Regions from separate parts of the Homo sapiens genome. Here all the other regions are linked to region 5. The links come from fine-mapping of genetic effects on gene expression. A gene starts in region 5. Each other region holds a variant in brackets. All regions are shown on one strand. Distances are between the middles of the regions. Region 1 overlaps LINC01150 (long intergenic non-protein coding RNA 1150). Region 2 has its middle 2.1 kb from the start of LSP1. Region 3 has its middle 23 kb from the start of MIR483. Region 4 holds the start of TNNT3 (troponin T3, fast skeletal type). Region 5 holds the start of MRPL23 (mitochondrial ribosomal protein L23). Region 6 holds the start of LINC01150 (long intergenic non-protein coding RNA 1150).

The links. PIP is the estimated chance that this variant, and not a neighbour inherited with it, causes the effect.
Region 1: its variant is fine-mapped to the expression of MRPL23 in whole blood (TOPMed, PIP above 0.99).
Region 2: its variant is fine-mapped to the expression of MRPL23 in whole blood (INTERVAL, PIP above 0.99).
Region 3: its variant is fine-mapped to the expression of MRPL23 in whole blood (INTERVAL, PIP above 0.99).
Region 4: its variant is fine-mapped to the expression of MRPL23 in whole blood (TOPMed, PIP above 0.99). The same link has a PIP of 0.9 or more in cerebellar hemisphere, cerebellum, fibroblasts, subcutaneous fat, thyroid and tibial artery.
Region 6: its variant is fine-mapped to the expression of MRPL23 in whole blood (TOPMed, PIP above 0.99).

What each region holds. Positions count from the first base shown.
Region 1 is chr11:1,904,268-1,908,351 of GRCh38, reverse strand. LINC01150 (long intergenic non-protein coding RNA 1150) reads right to left here. Exons shown (of 4, transcript NR_120534.1): 4 at 1-520. It also overlaps a transcript of PRR33 not described here. Among named protein-coding and RNA genes, the nearest start is that of LINC01150, 9.6 kb to the right of the region's middle. RefSeq lists enhancers at 864-1,363, 1,364-1,865. The variant C/T (reference allele first, on the strand shown) is at 2,480.
Region 2 is chr11:1,848,925-1,852,994 of GRCh38, reverse strand. No RefSeq gene overlaps it. Among named protein-coding and RNA genes, the nearest start is that of LSP1, 2.1 kb to the left of the region's middle. RefSeq lists enhancers at 1-139, 1,131-1,180, 2,527-3,513. The variant G/A (reference allele first, on the strand shown) is at 2,022.
Region 3 is chr11:2,108,891-2,112,974 of GRCh38, reverse strand. No RefSeq gene overlaps it. Among named protein-coding and RNA genes, the nearest start is that of MIR483, 23 kb to the left of the region's middle. The variant G/A (reference allele first, on the strand shown) is at 1,809.
Region 4 is chr11:1,917,169-1,921,252 of GRCh38, reverse strand. It overlaps TNNT3 (troponin T3, fast skeletal type), which reads right to left and starts at 1,550. Exons shown (of 16, transcript NM_006757.4): 1 at 1,491-1,550. It also overlaps a transcript of PRR33 not described here. The variant C/T (reference allele first, on the strand shown) is at 2,045.
Region 5 is chr11:1,945,432-1,949,515 of GRCh38, reverse strand. It overlaps MRPL23 (mitochondrial ribosomal protein L23), which reads right to left and starts at 2,184. Exons shown (of 5, transcript NM_021134.4): 1 at 2,137-2,184. The coding sequence starts at 2,153. SNORD131 (small nucleolar RNA, C/D box 131) reads right to left here and starts at 185; the gene lies at 40-185. RefSeq lists an enhancer at 1-255.
Region 6 is chr11:1,893,252-1,897,335 of GRCh38, reverse strand. LINC01150 (long intergenic non-protein coding RNA 1150) reads right to left here and starts at 577. Exons shown (of 4, transcript NR_120534.1): 1 at 191-577. It also overlaps a transcript of PRR33 not described here. RefSeq lists an enhancer at 1-516. The variant C/T (reference allele first, on the strand shown) is at 1,923.

The sequences.
Region 1 (4,084 bases), 41 kb after region 5:
ACATTCTAGTGAGTTTATTTGGGGGTGGGGGTGGGCGGGGGTGGGGAGATACTTGGCAAAAAGAAGCTGAAATTCGTACAGGAGAAACACGAAGGAACGGCCAAGAACATTTGGAACATCAGAGCCGAATTCAAAAGTGAAGGTGATGTAGCAGATTCATATTTAGAGCTCCCCGCAGACCAGCAGTCAGACAAAGCGTCTTTGGCCCTGGCCCTGTTAACTCTCACAGCAGGCTGAGGAGGTAGATGCTCTTATCCTTGGAGTCTTCCCAGAGAGCAAACTGAAGCTCAGAGGGGGTTGAACAAAATCCTGAAGGTCACACAGCTACGAGGCAGTGCAGTCAACTCTGAGACCGTGACTCCTGACTTCACAGCCACATCTTCTGTAGGTCGTAACACGGATCCTCATTCCACAATACCTATCCCGCAATGTTGTGTATGCACGGGAACCTGGGGGTGGCACGGTCGAGGGAGTCTGGCGGGGATATTTCATAAAAGAGGTCGAGAAAATCAGGTATGCACTGGGGAGGAAAAAAAGGCAGTGAGATTTGCTCTCCACATCAAATGCCAAAATACATTCCAGGTGAATTACAGAGGCTACGACATGTGAAAAAAAAAATGGTTAAAAATAAAGCTAGAGGCCGGGCGCGGTGGCTCACGCTTGTTATCCCAGCACTTTGGGAGGCCGGGGCGGTTGGATCACCTGAGGTTAGGAGTTCGAGACGTGCCTGGCCAACATGGCAAAACCCTGTCTCTACTAAAAATATAAAAAAATAAGCCGGGCATGGTGGCGGGAGTCTGTAATCCCAACTACTGGGGAGGCTTAGGCAGGAGAATCACTTGAACCCTGGAGGCCGAGGTTGCAGTGAGCCAAGATTGCGCCACTGCACTCCAGCCTGGACAACAGAGCGAGACTCCATCTCGAATAGATAAATAAGCTAGAGAGATGTGTGCTGCACACTTATCTGCTTTCATGCTGGGGAACAATGTTTCCAGCTTTAGAACAGTGGAAACATGATGGAAGAAAAGGGCAGCTCAGCCCATTTCACCACTTCACCATTTCAAGTTTCTGTCTATCCAAACATGTCCACCAAAATTAAAAGGCAGATTTCCACTCCTGGCTGAGATGGGGTAGCAGGGACTGGATTTATCTTCCTGCCTGAAACAACCAAACAGCAACACAGAACAGACAAAATACACAGGACAATGAAACAACCAAACAGCAACACAGAACAGACAAAATACACAACACAATGGCTCTCAAGATCCCACACGTGGGCCGTGCACAACAGTGCTTCCCGGGCTGGGAATTGGCCTCAGGGGCCTCTCGCTGCCCATGCACTTTCTGGTGGGTTTCCAGGCCTCAGTGCGGGAAGCGGGAGTTGAGGTGGAGCCCACAGAGTCCCTGAGCTGATGAGACAGAGCTGGGGGTCTCCAGGCAGCTGAAGTTCGTGAAGCTCAGAGAGCTGCCCAGAGAGAGAAGCTGAGACCCGAGAGTCCCCCTGGAGTATTAGGGACTGAGCCATCAGCACATCCCAGGGAAAACGTCCCAAGGCGGGAAAGCACAATCCGAAAGGACTAGAGAGACCAGTGCCGGGAGCTCACATGGACCTAGGAATTGTGTCTGCTCCCACCAGCCTCAGCAGAAAACCCTATCACGCACAGCGGTGGGGGGCTCAGAAACAGCTTGCCTCCATAGTGGGGAATAGTTAGCCCACACTATTCCAGACCTCCCTTACAAACGGTAAAAGTAATACTTGAAAGGATCAAACTGCTTGCAGATAAACAGCTACATTCCAGAACAAAGCTCAGGAATATTTGTGGAAATATAAAAGTATCTAGCTCCCACCCGAGTTAAAGTTTACAATGTCTGCATTCCAATAAAAAATTATCAAAAAGACAAAGAAGCAGGAAAGGGTGACCCATAAAAAAGAGGAAATATCAGTCACTCAGAGCCAACTGTGGGACGTTAAAGCTAACAACTAAAAACCCAAGTCAACCCCTAAAATAACAAAACAAAGAGTTACAGCGAAAAAGCCAGCAAACAAGATGATGTAACGAATAAAACTTCTCATGAACGCAAAAGGAGGCAGAAAAAGAGTAAAGGGGAGAAAAGAACAGATGTGACAAATAGAAAGCAAATAACAAGGTGACAGACTCTAACCTAACCATACCAGTAAGCACATTAAATATCAATGGGCTAAACTCCCCTATTAAGAAGCAGAGGGGCCATGCATGGTGGCTCACTCCTGTAATCCCAGCACTTTTAGAGGCTGGTAGAGGAGGATCCCTTGAGTCCAGGAGTTCAAGACCAGCCTGGGCAACAGAGGGAGAACTCATCTCTCCAAAAAAAAAAAAAAAAATACTTTAGCTGGGCGTGGTGGCATGTGCCAGTAGTCACAGCTACTCGGGAGGCTGAGGCAGGTGGATCCCTTGAGCCCTGGAGGTCAAGGCTGCCATGAGCTGTGATTGCACCAATA[C/T]ACTCGAGCCTGGATGCCAGTGAGACCCTGTCCCCCCCACAAAAAGAAAGCAGAGGTTGTCTGATTGATAAAAAAGCAAAGCCCAACTCTGTGCTGCCTGTAAGAAATATGGTTTAACTGGCCAGGTGTGGTGGCTCACACCTGTAATCCCAGCACCTTGGGAGCCCAAGGTGGTAGGATTGCTTGAGCCCACGAGGTCAAGAACACCCTGGGCAACATTTCTACCAGGGTTTGGTAGAAACCCCGTCTCTACCAAAAATACAAAAATTAGCCAGGCGTGGTGGCACACGCCTATAATCCCAGCTACTAGAGAGGCTGAGGCACGAGGATCGTTTGAACCCAGAAGGCGGAGGTTGCAGTGAGCTGAGATCACGCCACTGTACTCCAGCCTGGGCGACAGAGCGACACTCTGTCTCAGAAAAAAAAAAAAAAAAAAAAAGAGAGAAGGCCGGGCGCGGTGGCTCACGCCTGTAATCCCAGCACTTTGGGAGCCTGAGGCAGACGGATCACCTGAGGTCAGGAGTTCGAGAGTAGCCTGGCCAACATGGCGAAAACCTGTTTCTATTAAAATTTAAAAATTAGCTAGGTGTGGTGGCGTGTGCCTGTAATCCCAGCTACTCGGGAGGCTGAGTCAGGGAGAATTACTTGAACCTGGGAGACAGACGTTGCAGTGAGCTGAGATCGCGCCACTGCACTCCAGCCTGGGTGACAGAGCAAGACTCGGTCTCCAAAAAAAAAAAAAAAAAAAAAGAATTCTCAAGCAATGACCTTGCTCTCAGCTTAAGGAAAATAGAAAAAGAAAAGCAAATTAAACCCAAAGTGGGCAGAAGAAAGGAAATAGTAAACATCAAGTAGAAGCTGATAAAACAGAAAACAATAAATAATAGAACAAAATTGAGAAAACCAAAACTTGGTTCTTTAAGAATATCAGTAATCCTGATAAACCTTTAGCCAACTTGATGGGGAAGGGCCCGGGGAAAGGAGGAGAAGGATAGAAATTACCGATATCAGGAACAAGAGAGGCAGCGGGAGTACAGGTTCTGCAGAGATTAAAAGAATAAAGAGGCTGGGCGCAGTGGCTCTCGCCTGTAATCCCAGCACTTTGGGAGGCTGAGGTGGGTGGATCACCTGAGGTCAGGAGTTCGAGACTAGCCTGCCCAACATAGTGAGACCCCCATCTGTACTAAAAATGCAAAAATTAGCTGGGTGTGGTGGCACGCTGGTCTCGAATTCCTGGCCTCAAGTGATCCACCTGCCTCAGCCTCCCAAAGTGCTGAAATTACAGGTGTACAGATGTAAGCCATTGCACCTGGCCTTAAATTTCTTCTTTTTTTTTTCTTTTTTGAGATAGAGTCTTGCTCTGTCGCCCAGGCTGGAGTGCAGTGGTGCCACCTCTGCTCACTGCAACCTCCGCCTACCAGGTTCAAGCAATTCTCCTGCTTCAGTCTCTGGAGTAGCTGGGATTACAGGCATGCACCACCATGCCTGGCTAATTTTTTGTATTTTAGTAGAGACGGGGTTTCACCGTGTTGCCCAGGCTGGTTTTGAACTCCTGAGCTCAGGCAATCCACCCGCCTCGGCCTCCCAAAGTGCTGGGATTACAGG
Region 2 (4,070 bases), 97 kb after region 5:
CCTGTCTCGGCTTGGGTCAGGGTGTTGTTTTTTAATCTGTTGCTACAAGAGGAGAGGAAGAAAAAAAAAAAAACCCAAACCACCCCTCAGGAAGCGTTAAGCAAGTTACAGGGGCCTGGGGTGACAGAGACGGGGTGCGAGGGCCAAGATGGCCGCAGGCAGCTCTTCATGGCTCGGGGAGGGGGACCCATGTTACCCCTGGTCCCCGCTAGTAGCTCTGGCCATCAGGTCCACCTGTGAGTGGCCAGTTCTCCTGCAGCATCAGGGACAAACACGTCTGTGATCCCATAAGCACCACGTGAGCGTTTTAGCTTCTTTGGGTGAAATCTACCCAGAGGCCGGCTCTCCTACAGGTGCTCATGGAACTTGGTGGAGTCTTTTCTCGAAGCCTGGGGTCATAGCCTTGAGCACATCAAACAGCTGTGGGTCCCAGGTGGCTTTGGGGGCTGTGCCCGGGATGCCCCTGCGTTCTACCCGTCGGGTGCCTTGTTCTGTCTTGGACTGCCTTGCTGATGCCGAGCTGTCGGGCATCCGCCTCGTCCCCCCGCTGCCCCTTGCTCTCCGTGCTCTGGTCGCTGGAGTTGACCACCGAGTGGTTCGTGTCCCCAGGCTCTAAAGGCAGTGCCTCAGGGACCCTCCCAAGAGGCATAGGCCAGCCCGAGGGGAGGGATGGAGGCTGTTTCCAGCCCTCACTGTCCCCAGCTTCTGGGAGTGACCACGCAGTGGCTCCAGGGTCAGGAGGAGGGATGCATGACTGCAGGAGCCAGACCCCAAAAGCTGAGGCAGGGGAGGACTTAAGCTGGGCCAGAGTAGGGCAGCCACAGAGGTGGCGAAGGCTTCCCTGCTGGAAACCTCAGCGCAGGAGAATGGGAGAAGGGAGCCCTGGCCAGCGGCTGGGCCTGAGAAATCCAACCAGCAAGGACTTACAGGGGGTCCCAAGGCAAAGAGGGGCTGGAGAGAGGCCAGGGGTTGGGAGGGCCCTGGGCCCAGAGTGTTGACCCATCAGGGTGGGGCCGAACCGGAGGCCGCCTCCTTGGGACTCAGCGAGCCCCCCACCCACCAAACACACCACAAAGACCAGCAGAGGCTTTCAGAGCCCCACGAGTGGAGGCACCAGAGGGATCCGTGGCCCAGACGATGGGCAGGGCTAAAACCAGATCAGGCCCAGCGCCATGGAGATGAACAGGCCATGCCTGTGTCTTCCCCACGCCTCCTCCCTGGGGGTCCCTAAGGGCCCCCAAGTCCCCCTTGCAGAGTGGCACATGGCAGAGCCCTGCGGTTCTCACCATGCGGCCTCCATCCTGAGGCCATCCTGAAACGGCTCCCCTCATGGTGGTAGGGTCTCGCCTCCAGGTTGCAGCCATTCCGCTCACCCACCCGTCCAGGCACTGCATCGGCAGGTGCAATGCCTGTGTCCTCCTGCCCTTGAGGTCCTTCCCTTGGCCTGCAGAAGGGCAGCCCCAGCATCGTCGCTGGGAGCTTCAGGAACCTTGCCAGGAAGAGGACAGGCAGGTGGAGGCTGGGGTCCACCCCCTCCTGCCCTCTACTGCCCGAAGGCTGGACCGGCTGCCTCACTTTTGGAGCTAGAGCAAAATGAGAATGCAGAACCCTGTGGTTCAAAAACTGAGAATTTTGGCCGGGTGCGGTGGCTCACACCTGTAATCCCAGCACTTTGGGAGCCCGAGGCAGGTGGATCACTTGAGGTCAGGAGTTTGACACCAGCCTGGCCAACATGGTGAAACCCCATCTCTACTAAAAATATAAAAATCAGCCAGGCGTGGTGGCGGGCGGCTGTAAGCCCAGCTACTCGGGAAGCTGAGGTAGGAGAATCGCTTGAACTTGGGAGGCGGAGTTTGCGGTGAGCCAAGATCGTGCCACTGCACTTCAGCCTGGGCGACAGAGCTAGACTCCATCTCAAACAAAACAAAACAAAAACAAAAAAACCCTAAGAATTTCAAGAGGGAGACACAGAGCACAAAACCACACTCAGCCCCAGGTCTACGAAGCCGCTCGGGCGGAGG[G/A]GGAGGCCCACAGGCCCTGGAGCTGAAGGCTGGGGTGACGATCGGCCTGCCCCAAGGGCTTGGAGAGTGTGCCCTCCTCCCCTCTGCCTACCCAACCCTGTTGAAGCTGAATCATGCCCCTCACCCACATTCATATGGTGAAGTTCTAACCCTACCCCTAGCCTAACCCCTCAGAGCGTGACCGTGTTTGGAAGCGGAGTTGCTTCAGGTGTCATTAGCTGGATGAGGTCACGGTGGAGGAGGGTGACCGCTCAGCCAGTGTGACTGGTTTCCTTACAAAAAGAGGAAATGTGAGCCAGGCACGGTGGCTCACGCCTGCAATCCCAGCATTTTGGGAGGCCGAGGCGGGCAGATCACGAGCTCAGGAGATCAAGACCATCCTGGCTAACACGGTGGAACCCCATCTCTACTAAAAATACAAAAAAAAAAAAAATTAGCCGGGCATGGTGGCATGTGCCTATAGTCTCAGCTACTTGGGAGGCTGAGGAAGGAGAATGGCGTGAACCCGGGAGGCGGATATTGCAGTGAGCTGAGATCATGCCACTGCACTCCAGCCTGGGTGACAGAGTGAGACTCTGTCTCAAAAAAAAAAAAAAAAAAAAAGAGGAAATGTGGACACGGGACACAGACACCCACGGTGGGGAGCTCCCCATGAGAAGACAGTGGAGATGAGGGTGAGGCATCCACAAGACAGTTGCACCAAGGGGCACCGGGACCCCCAGCAGTGGGAGAGGCCTCAGGAGAACCAGTCCTGCCCACCCCAGGATCTCGGACTTCCAGAATGTGGGAGCTCAACGTCACGGCAGCCACAGGGCAGCAGGACAACCCCTCCAGCGACACGTCTCACAAGCAGGCCACGGCGTGGGGGAGCCCTGCCTGTTCTCAAGGAACCCAGGCCGAGGAATAGGCACACTCCAGGATGCTCACGGGGCTCTGGGAGGCCTTCTCAGCAGATGTACGCCCTCACCTCCCGAATCGCAGAGGAAAGGGAAGCCAGGGTGCAGGGTGTCCTCCTGTGGCCGTCCAGCCCTCTCTCCTGCCCACATCACCGTCGTGGAGAAGGCAGACTCTTGCTCTCTCACTCAGCTACTCCTCCGCAGACGCCAGGGCCATCTTGCGGCCCATCCACCTTCCTCCCGGTCCCCCAGCCTCTCCTCCCTACACCCTCCACGTTGATGTGCAAATCACTCAACCTTTTCACAAAAAAACAAAAGCAAAGAGCATCCCGGAGGCTGCCCAGCCCATGTGGCCGCCCGCTTCTCACTCCTTCCCTCCCTGGCCAAGCCCCTGCCTCCAGCCCTTCTCTCCACTCAGCCTGGACTGGCAGGCGTGGGCAAGGGAGGAGGTGTCCCCAGTGAGGGCCCAGCCACCCCTCAGGCCGTCCGGGCATTTCTGTGTGTGTGTGTGTGTGTGTGTGTGCGCACGAGCGTGTGTGACAGGGTCTTGCTCTGTCACCCAGGCTGGAGTGCAGTGGTGCAACCAGGGCTTACTGCAGCCTCTACCTCCTCGGCTCAAGTGATCCTCCCGCCTCAGCCTCCCAAATAACTGGGATCACAGGTACATACCACCACGCCCAGCTAATTAAAAAATTTTTTGTGTGTACAGATGGGGTCTCACCATGTTTCCCAGGCTGGTCTTGAACTCCTGGGCTCAAACCATCCTCCTGTCTCAGCCTCCCATAGTGCTGGGAGTACAAGCATGAACCACTGCACCCGGGCAGTGCATGCGTGTTTGAGAACGGTGTGGGCCTTGCTGGGTGGGAGGTTAAACAGGAACAGAGCCTTCCTCTGAAGAGCTAAGAGTCTACCCAAGAATCAGATGCAGAATCATTTCTTCCCTCAGTGCCTGAAACTCTAAGGGAGGTGTGTGGAGGGCAGACCCCGGCCCCTCCGTTGTCCTGTCTCCAAATCTGGTGCAGGGTCCAGCGAGCAGCACGGGGACCAGCAAGCGGCTGCATCAGGTGATGAGTTAGTTTGGATTCTGGGATGGAGCCAGCTGAGGGCATCAGATTCCGGGGGATGGAGCCAAGCAGGGAAGCCTTGAGGGGTG
Region 3 (4,084 bases), 160 kb before region 5:
TTTTTTTGAGGCGGAGTCTCACTCTGTCACCCAGGCTGGAGTACAGTGGCACGATCCCGGCTCACTGCAAGCTCCGCCTCCTGGGTTCATGCCATTCTCCTGCCTCAGCCTCCCGAGTAGCTGGGACTACAGGCGCCCACCACCACGCCCGGCTAATTTTCTGTATTTTTAGTAGAGACGGGATTTCACCATGTTAGCCAGGATGGTCTCAATCTCCTGACCTCGTGATCCACCCACCTTGGCCTCCCAAAGTGCTGAGATTACAGGCGTGAGCCACCGTGCCTGGCCACATTGAGATGGAGTTTCACTCTTGTCGCCCAGGCTGGAGTATAGTGGTGCAATCTTGGCTGACTGCAACCTCCACCTCCCAGGTTCAAGTGATTCTCCTGCCTCAGCCTCCTTAGTAACTGGGATTACAGGTGCCTGCCTCCATGTCCAGCTAATTTTCATATTTTTAGTAGAGACAGGGTTTCACTATGTTGGCCAGGCTGGTCTCGAACTCCTGACCTCAGGTGATCTGCCTGCCTCGGCCTCCCAAAGTGCTGGGATTCCAGGCGTGCACTACCACGCCCAGCCCCGGTGCATTTGGTTATGATGCCTCTGTCGTTTCCTAAACTGAGGGACTGTAACATCACGGAGTCTCTAAAGGTCATGGGTTTCAGATTCTGCATTGCAGCTAAGCTTGAAGAAATGACACTTGTCAAGTTTTGGTGTAGTAGCAAAAAGAAAATCTACAAGCGCATAAGGCCATTAAAGTACCAGCGCCCCCCACCCCCCACTCCCAACCACGTATGTTCGTAGATGTCCTCATCTACATTCTTCCCATGCGCTGGCCAAAGCCTGCAGAGGCGTGATGGGAATCCGCTGCCTTCCAGCAAGCCACAGAGATTCGCAAAGTGCAAAGACATCTCACTCTTCTCACGGAACTTGCTTTGTTTTGAAAAGCCTAGTTGTCTTTTGTAAACAAATATTTTATGTTAATGTGTAGTAGTGAGTTTATTATTGCTGTTGTGATTTTACTGTTTTGTGTTCATTTGTTTCATATGGTTTTGAGTCAGGGTCTTGCTCTGTGGCCCAGGCCGGAGTGCAGTGGCACAATCCAGGCTCACTGCAGCCTCGACCTTCCAGGCCCAAGTGATCCTTCTGCCTCAGCCTCCCGAGTAGCTGGTGTGTGCCACTATACCTGGCTTTTTTTTTTAATTAAGGATATTTTAATGGCCTTATGTGCTTGTAGATTTTCTTTTTGATTACTCCTCCTTGTAATTCCAGCACTTTGGGAGGCCAAGGTGGGAGGATCACTTGAGCCCATGAGTTCAAGACCAGCCTGGGTAACATAGCAACATAGCCCAGGCTGGTCTTGAACTCCTGGGCTCAAGTGATCCTCCCGCCTTGGCCTCCCAAAGTGCTGGAATTACAGGCATGAGCCACCATGCCCAGCCTCTGTTGTGACTTTTAAATTAATTCATTTAACCTATTTTTAAAATTTCTAATATTTTAAATATTGAAATATTTCAATGTCTTAGTTGTAACTTCTAAGACAGTAAATATCAGCAGGGGTGACCCCGTATCAACCCACTCTCTTTAAGGACTTGTTCATAACTTTGGGGAATGCAAGAGGCCCTGAGGCCGGAACATTTGAGAACCGAGGTCGAAGAGCCCAGGCTTAGGGGCCAGTAGCTGTGCTTATAATTAGCAGAGGGGCAAGTGTTTTGACTGTTTCAAATCCTGGAGTGTTGCCTCGCTTTTCTGTTCCTCAGTGTCCCCCTGTGCAAAAGCGAGCACCTGAGCACGGGGCTCCCACCGGATGC[G/A]CGTGTAAACAGCCTGGCTCGGGTTTGTTCTCCACAAAGGGAGCTGCTGAGAGTGGCATTAAAAAGTGATGGACAGACGGTCCTTGGACAAGAGTAAAACTGGGTTAGGACTACAGAAAAATCACATGGAAAGCACAGTGAGTTCCCATGGACCTCCTGCCTCATGCGTCCACCACAGTTTCCCCTGTTATTCACATGTTGCAATATGTGGGCCTTCTCTTAGAATTGACCAGCCAGCACCAGCACACACTGAGGTCCAGGCTCACTCTAGGGGTTGTGCATTCTATGAGTTTGGACGCAAGTTATCATGCCCTATATCCACCATCAGACTATCAGACAGAGTAGTTTCACTGCCCCCACAGTCATGGTTCTGCACCTCTTCCTCCCTCTCTTCCTGCAAACGCTGGCAGCCACCGGTCTTTTCACTGTCTCCATAGCTTTGCCTTTTCGAGGACGTCATAGAGGTGGAATCCTACGGGCGTAGCCTTTGCAGAGTGGCTTCTCTCACTTAGTATCATGCATTTGGTGCTCCTCCATGTCTTCTTGCGGCTCACAGCTAACTTCTTTTTAGCACCGAATAACATTCCTCGGCATAGAGGTACCGCTGTGTGTTTACCCACTCACGCACTGAAAGATCTCAGTTGCTTCCAAGTTTTTGGTGATTATGAATAAAACTGCTATAAATACTTGTGAGCAGGTTTTTATGTGGATGTAAGTGTTCTCTTTGATTGAATTTTATTACAAATTACTAACACATTATCTCAAGACAATGCCTGAGGCAGCTCCTCTGTGCTCCTCTGCTGGAAGGGCTTCTGAGATCCTACGCTGTGGTTTTAAATTGTAGCGTTCTTTTTTTCTGGAGTTTTAATGTTCTTTGTGTAGGTTGCTGGTTCCACTTCCAGACTTCCACTTCTCCTCCCCAGCCTATATCTCCATCTTTGCATCAGTACCGTGAGGTTTTAATTATTGTTACTCTAGAACATGTTCTAACTTCTGGCAGGCTAAACTTTTCTGCTTTAAGCCCCTTCTATTTTAAAACATTTCTTTAAAACTTGCCTCACATCTTCCTTTCTGAACCTGGCTCACAGAGACCCCTTCCCCAACTCAATGCCACCAGAGTGAGCTTCTGCAGGCCTCAGCGCCCCAGCTGGGCTGTGGCAGCCCTTTGAAGGCCCTTGACCTGCCCAGCATGGCTGCCAGCTCCTGCCCACTCCCATTGTACCCCATGAGAAGCCCAGCTAGTTTGTGTGCTCTGGGCTGGGTCTTGGCAGCCTGGGTGGAGCAGCTGAGCCCACCGTGGCAGAGAAGGGTGTGTGCTGGGAGCCCACCCTCCTCTGACCTGCACGGCTCCACTGGTCAAGCGCGAAGCCCAGGGGTTCCTGGCGGGGGAGTTGCAGCCTGGCCGTTTCCTGGAGGGCTGGGACTGCCCAGCCCAGCCGAGGGCCTGGCTGCAGCGCCACCTTCTAGGCAGCCCGCATGCTGAGGCCCCAGCCCTCCCCTCATGTTCAGGGAAGACCAGCTGCTTCCTGTTTGTGTGAAGAATTCGGCTGTTTTCCCGAGTGGTGGGTGAGGGTCCAAGCACCCAGTGGGACGGTCGCTCCTCGTTTCTGTGGGGCCTGCTGTTCTGAGGAGAAACTTAATCACTTTGTTTTCTTGGTTTAGGTTTTGCTTTTTAATAATAAAAAAAAAAAAAGACCCAGCTTGTCTGCAGCCCCAGGGCCCTGTGACGTTCCTGGCATAACAGGCGTTACTTTTACACGGGCTGCTGCAGTGGGCGGCTGGCCGGGAGCTCCCGGGGAGGGCAGTGGGTCTCATGGACTCGGCCCTGCCCAGCTGGGCGTGGGCACCGCTGCCCGAAAGTGGGGGGGTCTGAAGGAGCCGACCCCTGCGTCCCGTGCTGGCTCAGCCGGGCTCCCTGAGGGCCCTGACCCTCTCCCAGCCATGGGTCAGTGCTGGGGAGAAGGTTCTCAGATGCCGGGGAGGCCTGGGAAGGAGAAGAGCCTGCAGGCTCCCTCAGCAAGGGCTGGCAGGTCTGGGAACCGCCAGGCCACCTGACTTCCAGGGCAGCCCCTCCGGGAGTCAACACCCGCCCCCTCTCCCAGAAACCCAAGCCAGGAAAGATGGGGGACAGAGCCCTGGCACCCCCACTCTTTCTGGCACTCTCCCCTCAGAGGCCTCAGCTGCTGGACAAGGTCCTGGGCTCCCTGGGTTGCCCTCTTGGCCCAGGCTGGGGATGGAGAACAACGTACAGTCGGTGCCCTGGTGTCCCCCAGGGC
Region 4 (4,084 bases), 28 kb after region 5:
GGGCAGCGTGGCCCTCGCCTGGGGTGGGTTATTTATAAGGAGCCAGTGGCAGCTGAGGTGTCCAGAAATAGGCAAGACGTTTCTGCCCAGAAACCCAAGACGTGGGTGAGGCGGGTGTGACAGCCCAGCCCTCCTTGGCCCACAGCTGCCCCCTCACCCTCGGGCACCCAGGCCCTCCCCAGCTCCTCATATTTCCCTCCTGTCCCCCCAGGCCAGAGTCACATGGGTGCCCCAACACCCTCAGGCAGGGTGACCTCCAGGCCCCCCGACGTGCGCTGGAAAGGCCCACTCTCCAAGTGGGGAAACTGAGGCACCTGGTTTTCTGCTGAGCGCCTGGAAGCAACACAAGGCTGTTCTGTTCCCCCCAGTATGGCCTGTGTCATTGCCTCTGTTGCGGGGAGGGGCTGGTGGCAGGGGTGTGCTGGGGGCAGGGGTGTGCTGGGGGCAGGGGATGGCATTTCAACAGCTGAGACGCAAAGCAGGTGTCCAGTTAGTGCCTGCCTTGGAGGGGCTGCGTGAAAATAACCTATGCGGTCAGTTTCTTCGGGCACGTATGCATCACCTTTCCCTCCTTGGGAGGTGACGGGGCCAGGGCAGGGTGGGGAGGCAAAAGCCGCTGCCCCTTGCTTGCTGTGGCCCTGACCATGCCCCCAGACCTGTTCTCCACCCAGCCAACCTTTGCTTTGCCCCATGTCCCTCCGTGGACTTCAGGAGGGGCAGCCAAGGCCTGATCAGACGGCACAAGTCAGGGGGACCGTGTCCAGGGCAGGGAGGGTGGGTGGGGGCTCTTACGAGCGCCAGCTTCTCCAGCCTCCAGCCAGGGGGACGCGATGAAGCCCAGCCCCTCACTCTTGCCCCGTCCTGCCCCAGTCCAGCCCCTGTCCACTTCTGTCCTGCACCTCCAGACGCTGGCCCCCAAGGCTGCGTGGGCTTTAGACGCCCCCACCCCAACACACTCGGGCTGGCCATACAGGAGCCCCTGCCCTCCTGTCCTCGTTTTCATCTCTACAAAATGGCGGTGTTGGAGGCCCAGGTGCGAGAGCTGCATGGCAAGGCCAGGACGGGCCTGGGCAAATGTCTGCATGGCGACCACAAGCTGGCAACCTAAGCCCTGGCAGCACCCCTGCACAGCCTCTTCCCTGCCGCTCACAGCCCGCACCTCTCTGCCTCCTGCCCTCAGGCCACTCCCTAGCACTGAGCTTCCCTGAGCCCCGACTTGCCCCCTCCTGGCCTCCCACACTCTGCCTTCTTCTGCATCCTCCCGGTGCTGAGACCATCACACCACCATGTCCGCATCCCAGACTCTCCGGACGCTGGAGCAGCCACCTGGGGGCTCCGAGCCATGATGCTTCGAGATGCTCGGCACCACACGGACCTGGGACCTCAGCGCCCCAGGACCCCAGAGTGTCCCTGGAACGAGGGGCTGTCCACCCGCACGCAGGAGGCCCCGTCGGCCCCAGTCCTGGGTGGCCGCTCCTGCCTATACCCACCTGCGGGTCGAGTGTGAGAAGGGCTGGAGCTCCCTGTGGACAGCACCGGCTGCAGGCACTGGCGCCCGGCTCACACCCTCGTGTTATAGTGACATTTGATCTTCCTAGGAGCCCATTGGCCAGTGACTGGGTGGCCGGGGTGTGTGCGGAGTCTTGCTGGGGGGGGCTATGCCCGTGCAGGCCCCTTACCAAGTATAGGAATGGCCAGAGGAGGAGGCTGAAGGAGGCCAGGATGCAGAGGACGTGCTTGGAGAAGGAGGCAAGGTCCTCCCTCCGCCTCCAGGAGGTGTCAGCTGCTATTTTTACTCCCAGCAGCGGGTACATTCTGGATGGGCTGAGGAGGGAGGAGGAAGGTGTTGGGTGGCCCCGGGGCACCAAGCCGAGGCTCTCTTTGGGCCAAACTAGTGTGGGGGTCCCCAGAGCCAGGCTGCCGGGTTTCCCACCCCCCCGCCCCTTCTCTCTGAGATGTTCTGTGGGAGTAAACATTTGTCCAGGAAAAGGGTCCGCACAGCCGGGGTCCCCTCCCGCCGCCCGGCCCAATGCCCCAGGCCCTT[C/T]GCTGTCTCCCCCGGGGAGGAAGCAGCCTGAGGCCTCGGAGACCCCCCATGGAACTGAGGCCAGGCCCCCACCCTATCTGAGACCCTCTTAGAGGCCAGCTCTGCTTTCCTGGCTAGACACCGTTGGGGCCTACACAATAAGCGGGCGAGGGACATGGCCAGGCTGGCTGCAGTCCGAGTCTGCCATACCTCCCCCCGGGGCTGCTGCCATTGCAGGGGGCTACACATGGAGTTTGCTGGGTAAGGGTCTGGGTCCTCCCTCTAGGCCCTTTCTAACCCTGGGGCCCCACCCTGGGCACTCGCAGTGGCCGTTACCATCTGTGCCAGCATCTCCCACAGGCTCATTGTGGCGTGTGGAGACTGGTTTTCTTTCCTCAGGACTCCAGGTGGCACCGTCCGACTAGCAGACATCCTTCCTGGCCTCTGATGGCCTGTATGCTGGCCAGTGAGGCCACCAGATTGGATAACCCTGCCTCTTGGATCAGGGAAACTGAGGCACCAGGTGGGGGAGAGCAGTCTGGCACCCTGACCCACCCCCTCACTCCCCTCAGACCCCACAGGCTGAGCGTGGGCGGTGGTGTCTGCGGAACTCTTCGGTTCAGGCACAGATTGGTTCCTTCTTGGCCAGCGCCCAGGACAGGGGTGAGTCCCGAGAGGCACAGATGAGGTCCCTGTCCTCCCCAGGCTTAGAGTCAGGGACAACAGGATAACCCGGCAGGGGCTCACAGTGCCCTGGGGCCGGGTCGGGGGCCTTCCGGAAGGCTGTGGTTGGCACCTCATTCCACCCCTCCATGGAAGAGCGAGGCCGCAGAGCCCAGGGACAGGCAAGGTGTGCCTGGGGTCACACGACAAGGCGGGCTGGCCCCAGGCTGCCATTTCAAAGGACAGGGCCGGTCCCCTGCCTGCCTCCCGCTGAGTGCCCGGCACTGGGAAGGCTCTTGGAGCTGGGGTTGCTGGGAACGTCGCCGTCCTCCTGCTCTGGGTCTGTGGCTTCGTCTGCATTCCACGCCTTCCCCTCCCTGTCCATGTCCTCGATGGGCAAGGCTTTGGGGGCCACAAACAGCCCTGGCCCCTGGATATCTGTGACCAGCTTCCTGCCCACTGGGGACATCTGCAGAACTGCTCCCTCAGAGGCACGTGAGCGGGTCCCTGGGGGTCAGCGGGCCCACCCCATCCTCTCCCATGGTGGGGCCAACCTCCTTTTCCAGGCTCGCTCTGCCGGCTTCTCTAACGGAGCCCTGAGCCCACCATTCTGGTTACACGTGGTTCAGTCTGCAGGCCTAGGAAGCCTGTGCCCACCCAAGCCCTCACCCAGGCCAGGGGTCCTGAGGGGCGCACCTGAAGGTGGGTGTGCCATAACCCTGCACTGGCCCCGTGTGGCCAGCAGGGGAAGGTGCTGCCCGCCCAGCTCCTGGAGCTTTGGCAGGCGCTCTCCGCCCAGCCAGCTGAGGTCAGAGGGATAGGGCAGGTTTTATTTTGGGTATCGGCGACCTCCCCCTCGGGCGCTGGGCCTGAGGCGTAGCAGGGACTGCACAGAGCAGGCACCAGCGGCCTCGAGGGCCTGCACCAGGTAACCCATGCCCTGCTGCCATCTGGCCGGACCGGGATGGTCCAAGGAGAGGAGGCAGGGCAGGGGCCTCCTGGGGGACTGTAGACCTGGGTGGGGGCAGGGCACAAGGGAGGCCCAGCCTGGGTTGGGGACGCATTTCCACCCAGGAGGAGTCTGAGGACGGACCACGGGGCCTTGGCTCTAGGGCAGTTGTTGGGGGATGGGGGGGTTCTGAAATTGGCAAATGCTGAGCCAAGCCCAGGGAGTGGGGAGCAGGCTGTGGGAGGGAGGATGGCCTCCTGAGTGTCTTGGCTGCAGCTCCCTGCCTGGGTGGCCCCCAGATGGTGGCCGGGGCCCCTCAATCTAGGTCCCAGCACCCAGTGCGCATGGTTGGGGGTGGTGGAGACCAAGAGGGTCCTGAGCCTCTCCTCATGCCCTGAGCTGACCTGAGCCCCCAGGCTGGATCCAGCCTGAGGCCGCTCGGCCCAGCT
Region 5 (4,084 bases):
TGAGCCTCTGGGCCTGAGGGCCTGGCAGGGGCCAGGAGCTGCTGGGACCTCTCAGAGGCAAGGCGCCTGTAACAAAGCCCGATCACTAATCATGTCCACCCCAGGCCTCCTGATGACCACACTGACACATGGCAGCCTGGTGGCCGGGCCAGTGGGGCTGAGTCTTCACTCACCCAACCCCAGCAGAGCCTCCTCTTGGGCATGGCCTTGGCCTTTCCAAGCCTCAGAGTGCAGCCTTCAGGGGTGGGCCCCAGTGAGAGGCCGAGAAGAAAGGGTGGGCTCTGGAGGTGGAGGGGCCTGACTTGTTTTACCCACAGGTTCAGGCTAGCCATGGCCACCCGAGGGGCTCACACATTCCCTCTGGTGACCAGCTGTGGGACTGCAGGAGTGGAGACAAAGTTTGGGGACTCCCAGTAAACAGTAGAAAAGAGGGTTCAACAGCTCCCAGGCCATTAATTTTCGAGTCTCCAGGCTTGGGGCCTGAAGGGCACACTTTGCTAAGGGTCTGAAGGGCCATGTGTGGGCTTGAGATGAGAGGCTGGCAGGGGTTGGGCCAGGACGATTCACTGTCCTTGTTCCCACAGGCCGAGCCTCTCCAGGCTGGAGCGCCAGCTGCCTGTGCATGGAGCCTGCAGATCTGGAACAATCTGCACTGTCGACACCCAGGGCCCCAGGACAGGGCTCTAAGGCCTCTCTTTTGTTCTCGAACCCTTGTGGGCCCACCAGCCCTCAGTTCCCTCAGTCCCACTCTCCCCAGGGAGCACCCCAAGCACTCCGCATGGGATTTCACAAGCACCTCCACGGTAACCTATCTCAAGTAGAACTCTGCACTAACTTCTTCCTCAAAACACAAAAACCTGGCTCACTGCCACCAGCCTGCCTCCCCACGGCCCCACGAGTGACTCACCCAGGATCCCACCCTCTCGGCACCCCCACCCCAGCTGCATCCAGTCCACAGCAAGTCCAGTCAGCGCTCCCTGCAAAGGCTCCCTGGCAACAGGAGTGTGTGCACTGCTGGGCGAGCGGGCCCCGCTGCCTCCAAGGCAACCACACCTGATCCGTTTCCAGGGGCCCACCACCCTTGGCCCTTCAGGAACACCCCACCCGGGTCCTCTGACCCTCACTTCCTCCTCATTCTCCAGGGACAGGCGAAGGGCCAGCGTGGAATTCACGTGAGGCTCAGGGCAGTGTTGGCCTCACTCAGACCTTTTCTTCCTTGGTGCTGGGTGTTCCCCAAGGTCAGGGCCACGCGCAGCACCGGTCCCAGGTGTCTGCTGAAGGAAGCCTCCTCCACTGGGGGTCCCACCTGCCACCCTCCCCTCTCTCCCCAGCTATGTGCAGGGGCCTCCAAAGCCACACCCTGGCCCCTTGACCGTCCCTCTCCAGAAACACTGATTACTGTTCTCCAAAACCCACCCGGGAGCCCACATCTACTGATTACGCCTGAGTCATTCGTTCACCAAGAAATATGCAGGGCTTCCTGCTTCAATTTGGGGAGGGCGAAGTGGTGCAGGACAGCGCCCCGATGGCCCCCTGGGAATCCAGAGAACATGCAGAGTGGGCGTGGGGGGTCTGGGCTGAGCAGAACCGGGCCTCCCGCCCTGCCTGCCCCAAAGCCCTGAGGGCTGCGGTCAGCTGCCCTTTCCCACTCAAACCCAATCTGGATTCCCAGCTCCTCTGCCTCAGGCCGCGCCCGCGCTGCGGTGGGGGCCGCCCGGGCCTCCCCGCCTGGACCCAACAGCCGACGTGGCCCCCGCCCCGTGACGATCAGAAACGTCTCCAAACAGCTCCCTCGGCCCTGGCTGCGGGACCAGCCCCGGGCCTGACCCCGGGCCACCCTCCCACTCCCCACGCGGGGGCACCGTGGCCTCCATGGGTTTGGCTCGGACCCTCTGTCCCCAGCCCGGCCACGCCCGCCCCCTGGGGTTGCCCTAAACCTGGCGGGGGGCTCCTCCGCCACCCGCCTCGCGTGTCTCAAGGCATGACAGGGGGTCCCGGAGAACCCTGCCTCGCCCGGGCCAGGAGGCGGCCCAGGGACGCCCACCCCGCTCCCCGGAGTCCGCGCGCCCTGTGGGGTCCGTCTGCTTGTGACACTAAGGGGCGCCCCGCGACGGGGGGGTGACGACCCCTACTCACACCACATTCCGCGCCATGGCGGCCACGCGCGCTTCCGGGGTCCGCGAGGCGGAAGGAGCAGCGCGCCCGCCCCGCACGGCCGCCGCCTGGCACAGCGCCCCCTCGCTTCCGGAGGCCGCGCCGCCCCCCCCGCACGCGCCAGCGCCCGTGCCGCGCGCCCGTGCCGTCCCCAGCCCTGCGCCCGCCCCGCCCCGCGCCGCCTTCTTCTCCCTCCCTGCCCCCCTCCTGTCCCGCACCCCACGTTCCTCCCCGCCCCGACCCCCACTCCCCGCGCCGCAGACTCCACAGGACGCGGGGCCGCAGCAGTCCCGCCCCGCACTCCCGGCCCCACAGCCTGAAGCCCGGGCCCGCGCCCCTGCTGCTCGCGCCCCGCCCACGCCCGCACCCCTCCCAGCCCCAGAGACCTCCCGCCGCCGTCGCACTCTTTCGGGCCTGTCTGCCCTGCCTCCCGGGACCCCGGCCTGCACGCCCCCCACACCCGTGCCCCTGCCCTTTGGCAGCTCCAGGCCACAGCCTGGCCCCGCACCGCTGCGCTTGCAGCTGCTGGGAGCTGGAAGTGGAGAACCGGGGCTGTAGTGCTGGGGAGGGCGGGTCCCCGGGCCTGGGGTCTGAAGCCCCTCTCTCCATCTGGCTGTTTTTACCCGGGAGCCCGGAACCCCAGGGCCCCTCACCTCGCCCTTCTGGCCAGCCCGGTTGGCAGCCCCCACGCTGGCCACACCAGCCACGCTGTCCATCCTCGGTGCTCCCACCACGCCTCCTCCAAGAGGGCCACTGGCCTCTTCAGGCCTTGCCGTTTGCTCACCCCCTCTCCACCCTTCTGGCCAGCCCCCTCCAGCCTCTGGCAAGGCCCTCTCTACAGGGACCCCCGTCCAAGGCCCAGTCCTCACTCCTTTCCTTGGGTAGTGCTGGCCAGGAGGGCTGCTGGGACCCTTCGGGAGTAGAGGGCAGCAGCCTCCCTCCCCTGTCCCCAGGCCTCTCCCTCCTCCCCTGGTTTCCTCTGCCTGGTGGCTGGATTCAGGCCACTTCTCCATCTATCTCTTTAACTGCCCGTGCCCCCCACCCCCAAGCCTGGCTTGTTCCCGCACCCAACAGCACCCTAAGTGTTCTTCAGAGCAAGAGGCAGGGGTGTCATGCTTCAGAGCAAGAAGCGGGGCCATGGGTCCTGGTTGTTGCTGGGGGCAGGGGGCCCAGGCCTGCAGGTGGGAACAGGGCTGCGGGAGGGCACTGGGGTTGATGGAAATTCAGGAGGAGGAGAGGGCACTGTGCCCCTCCGAGGGCCTGGGCCGGGTAGGGCTGGAGTTCCTCCTGATGGGTGGGTTTGAGTGGAAATGACTCCAGGGGGTCTATCTAGCATGAAGGCATTGAAGCAGGATGGAGTGAGAAGTGGGCCAGAGTGGGCAGGGAAGGTGGTGGCAGCCGTCCCCACTGTTGTCCAGGCCTGCGTGAGGTGGAGAAGCTCCAGGCTGCCAGTGGCAGGGTCCCAGGAGGCTGGTGACCAGACAGGCCTTTGCCCAGCAGCAGGTGCCCTTGGCCAGGCCCAAGGAGCAGACCGCAGGACAGGGATGGAGCTGGAGAAGGGGGGTCCTGGGGCCGGGGGTCCTCAGGCTTCCTTTTATGTTCATGCAATGCTGCCTCTTTCGGCAGCCACATTGTGCAGTGTGCTTAGAGATATGTGGCTGCTGGAAGTTGGGTTCAGAGTTGTGGGTGGCCGATGTGGAGAGGAGGGTGATTGGAGGCCGAGCTGTGGGTCACGGGTGGGTGCTGCTCAGATCACTGGGGCTGCTGGAGGGCGGCGGTTGAGCTAGGAGCTGAGGTCCTTCCTCAGGGCGAGGCAGGGGTGGGGTCACAATGGAGCAGACCCCTCACCACTCCTTCCATCCCTGTTTCTCTGATAGTCTGCTAATGGGATCCTCCGGAAGGCATGCTAAGTATGGGGGGTCTCTGAGAT
Region 6 (4,084 bases), 52 kb after region 5:
GGGCTTGGGACCAAACAAGTACATTTACAATGGCGACAGGGACACCAATGTCTAAAGGGGGAAATCGTTAAATTAAGCTTGGCGTAAAGCTGCCTCCTGACATAGTTTATGTTCCGCCTTCTCCATCCACTGTGAACTGAAACCTCACTGGAGACGTAAACAGACTGAAGCCTTCCCTTGTGCCACTCACCAGGTTTCCGCTCATCAAGGGTGCCGGCCATTCCAACCGTGTTCAGATAAGGCAAGCATGGAGCTGCAGCCCCTCTGGCGGTTTCTGTGCTTTGCTTCCGTTTTCTGTGCCTCCTTTCCCTTTTCTGTCCACCAATCTTCAGCCACACGGCAGCACCAGAGCCTCTCTGAACCTATTTTGGTTTGGGGGCTGCCCCATTAGCGAGTGGTTCTTTGCTTAATTAAACTCTGTTAAATTTAATTTGTCTAAGGTTTTTCTTTTAACAGTACAGAAAAAGCATTTGAAAAATCCAACGTCGGTTCCTGATTTGTTTAAAAAACATCACTCAGTAAATTAGGAATAGAGGGAACTTCCCTAACCTAATACAGGATATCTATGAAAACCCCACAACCGATGGCGGAAGACTGAACAGTTTCTCACTAAGAACAGAAAGGAGGCTGGGATGTCCGCCCTCATCACCTCCGTCCAACATTGACCTGGAGGTTCCTGCTCGTGCAATTAGGCCCCCAAAAGAAATAAAAGCCATACAGACGAGAAAGGAAAAAGAAAACAATCTTATCTACAGATAACGTGACCATCTAACCCGATGGAATCAACAACAAAAGAAAAACCTGCAAGAACTACTCAGTGAGATTAACAAGGTTGTGGAATAACAAGACTGATATACAAAGTCCATTGTGTTTCTATAAAATGGTAATCAACTATCAGATATTGACATTAAAAATACCACTTCCTAACTGTATAAAAATAGACAATACTTAGAGGTCAATCTGACAAAAGATGTGAAAGACCTCCAAATTGAAAGAGTAAAAAATCCTTGGAAGAAGTGGAAGAAGACCTGAATAAATAGGGACATCCAAGGTTCGTGGATTAGTAAGTTCAATACTGTTAAGATGTCAACTCTCCCTGCATTTATAGAAATTCACAGGTCCATTCTAAAACACATATGGAAAAGCAGAGGAGGAGAAGAGCTAAAACAATCCGGAAAAAGAACACAATTGAAGAGCTAACATTCTAAGAATTCATATAAGACCAGTGTAAGCAAAACTTGAGTGATACTGGTGTAAAAATATTCAAGTAGATCCAAAAGAAAACGGTCCAGAAATCAGCTTACACACACAGACTGATGACTTTTTTTCAGGCAGGGTCTCACTCTGTTGCCCAGGCTGGAGTGCAGTGGTGCAATCTCTGCTCGCTGCAGCCTCAAATTCCCAGGCTCTAGGGATCCTCCCACCTCAGCCGCCCAAGTAGCTGGGACCGCAGGCACCCACCACCATGCACAGTTCAGACTTTTGACAAAGGTGCAAAGGCGACTCGGTGCACAACTGTAGCTTCTTCAAGAAACCATGCTGCAGCAATTTCATATTCTGGAACAACTGGATCTCCATATGCAAAAAGAAAAAGAAGAATAATTTGCATTCGTACCTCACACTATACACAAACATTAACTCAAAAAGGATCGTGGGTCTAAATGTAAAGCTGGAGCCATAAAAACACAGGAGAAAATCTTTATGGCTCTGGATAAGGCAAAGATTTCTCAGACATGATACCAAAAGCACAATTCCTAAAAGAACAAATTGACAAACTGAAATTCATCAAAAATGTTTAAAATTTGCTCTTCAGATGGTTAACGGTGAGAGGACAAGGCCACCAACCAGGAGAAAAATCTTTGCAAATCTATTTCATCAAGGATTGATTCAGAATATATACAAAGAACTCTCACGGTGGCTCA[C/T]GCCTGTAATCCCAGCACTTTGGGAGGCTAAGGCAGGCGGATCACTTGAGGTCAGGAATTCGAGACCAGCCTGAACAACATGGTGAAACCCCACCTCTACTAAAAATACAAAAATTAGCCCGGCGTGGTGGCAAATGCCTGTAGTTCCAGCTACCTGGGAGGCTGAGGCAGGAGAATCGCTTGAACCCAGGAGACGGAGGTTGCAGTGGGCCAAGATGGCGCCACTGCACTCCAGCCTGGGCAACAAGAGCAAAACTCCATCTCAAAAAAAAAAAGAAAGAAAGAACTCTCAAACTCAACAATAGGAAAACAAATAACCCAATTTTACAGCAACGGGCAAAAGATCTGAACAGATGCTTCCCCCAGCAAGATGTATCAGTGGTGAAGTAGCACGTGCAAAGCTGCACGGCACCCCTGGTGCCGGGAGACACGCAAGCCAAAATCACAGACCGCACCCTCCACGTCTAGGAAGGGCCAAAGTCAGCGAGATGAACCATTCCAACTGCAACAAGAAATGAGAGCTAGGCCGTTTCTGAACAAGTTTCACACACACCTCCCACGGCATCTAGTCGTTTTATTTCTAGGCCTCTCCCCAAGAGTAAAGGAAATGTATGTCCTTCTGAAAACCTGTGTGTGAATGTAAATGGCCACATTACTTTCCATCATTCAAAACTGGAAACCACCCTGATGTCCACCAAGAGACGAACAGATGAGCGGGTTGGGGTGTACCCATGCTGTGGCAATAAAAATGAGTGTTTACAACAGACACAGCAGCAAGCATGGATCTCAGAATAGTTATGCTACGTGACAGAAGTCAGACAAGGAGTGCGTGCGTGCTGCAGGATGCCATTTATGTAACACTGTAAAAAAGCACAAACCCTTGGGTGCAGGGCTCATGCCTGTAATCCCAGCACTCTGGGAGGTGGAGGCAGGGGGGGTCGCTTGAGCCCAAGAGTTTGAAGCCAGCCTGGGCAACATAGCAAGACCTCGTCTCTACAAAAAAAATCAAAAACTTAGCCAGGTGTGGTGGTGGGCACCTGCGGTCCCAGCTACTTGGGAGGCTGAAGCAGGAGGATCCGTTGAGCCCAGGAGGTTGAGGCTGCAAGGAGCTCTCATTGTGCCACTGCACTCCCAGCCTGGGAAACAGAGTGAGGCTCTGACACACACACACACACACACACACACACACTCCCACACTCCCAGCCTGGGAAACAGAGTGAGGCTCTGACACACACACACACACATTCCAGCCTGGGAAACAGAGAACTTGTCACACACACACATACACACAAACACACACACACTCCCAGCCCGGGAAACAGAGTGAGGCCCTATCACACACACACACACACACACTCCCACACTCCAGCCATCCACCCACCCACCTACCCATCCACTCATTCATCCCTTCCTCCATCCATCCTTCCCGCTCTCTGTCCATCCATTCATCTATCCCTTCACCCATCCATCCACCCACCCATCTACCCATCCACTCATCCATCTCTCCATTCATCCATCCACCTATCCATTCACTCACTCACCTATCTATCTATCCGTCCTTTCATCCATCCTTTCATCTACCCATCCACACATCCATCCCTCCATTCATCCATCCACCTATCCATCCATCCACCTGTCCATCCACTCTCATCCATCCCTTCATCCATCCATCCATCTACCCATCCATGCATCCATCCCTTCATTCATCAATCCCTCCATTATCTATCTATCCATCCATCCAACCACCTACCCATCCCTTCATTTATCGCTCCTTCCATCCATCCATCCACCCACCCACCTACCCATTCACTCACTCATCCCTCCCTCCATCCCCCCTCTCTCCCTCTGTCCATTCATCCAGCCATCCCTTCATCCATCCATCCACTCATCTACCTATCCACTCATGCATCCCTCCTTTCATCCATCCACCTATCCATTCACTAACCCATCCATCCATCCATCCAGCCAGCCAGCCAGCCAGCCAGCCATCCTCCCACCCACCCATCCATTCACCCACCTATTCACCCACTCATCCATCCATTAGTCCATCCATCCACCCACCTGCTTACCCATTCACTCATCCATACATCCCTCTATCCATTCATCCATCCCCTATTCATCCACTCACCCATCCCTCCACTCACCCACCCAACCATTCATCC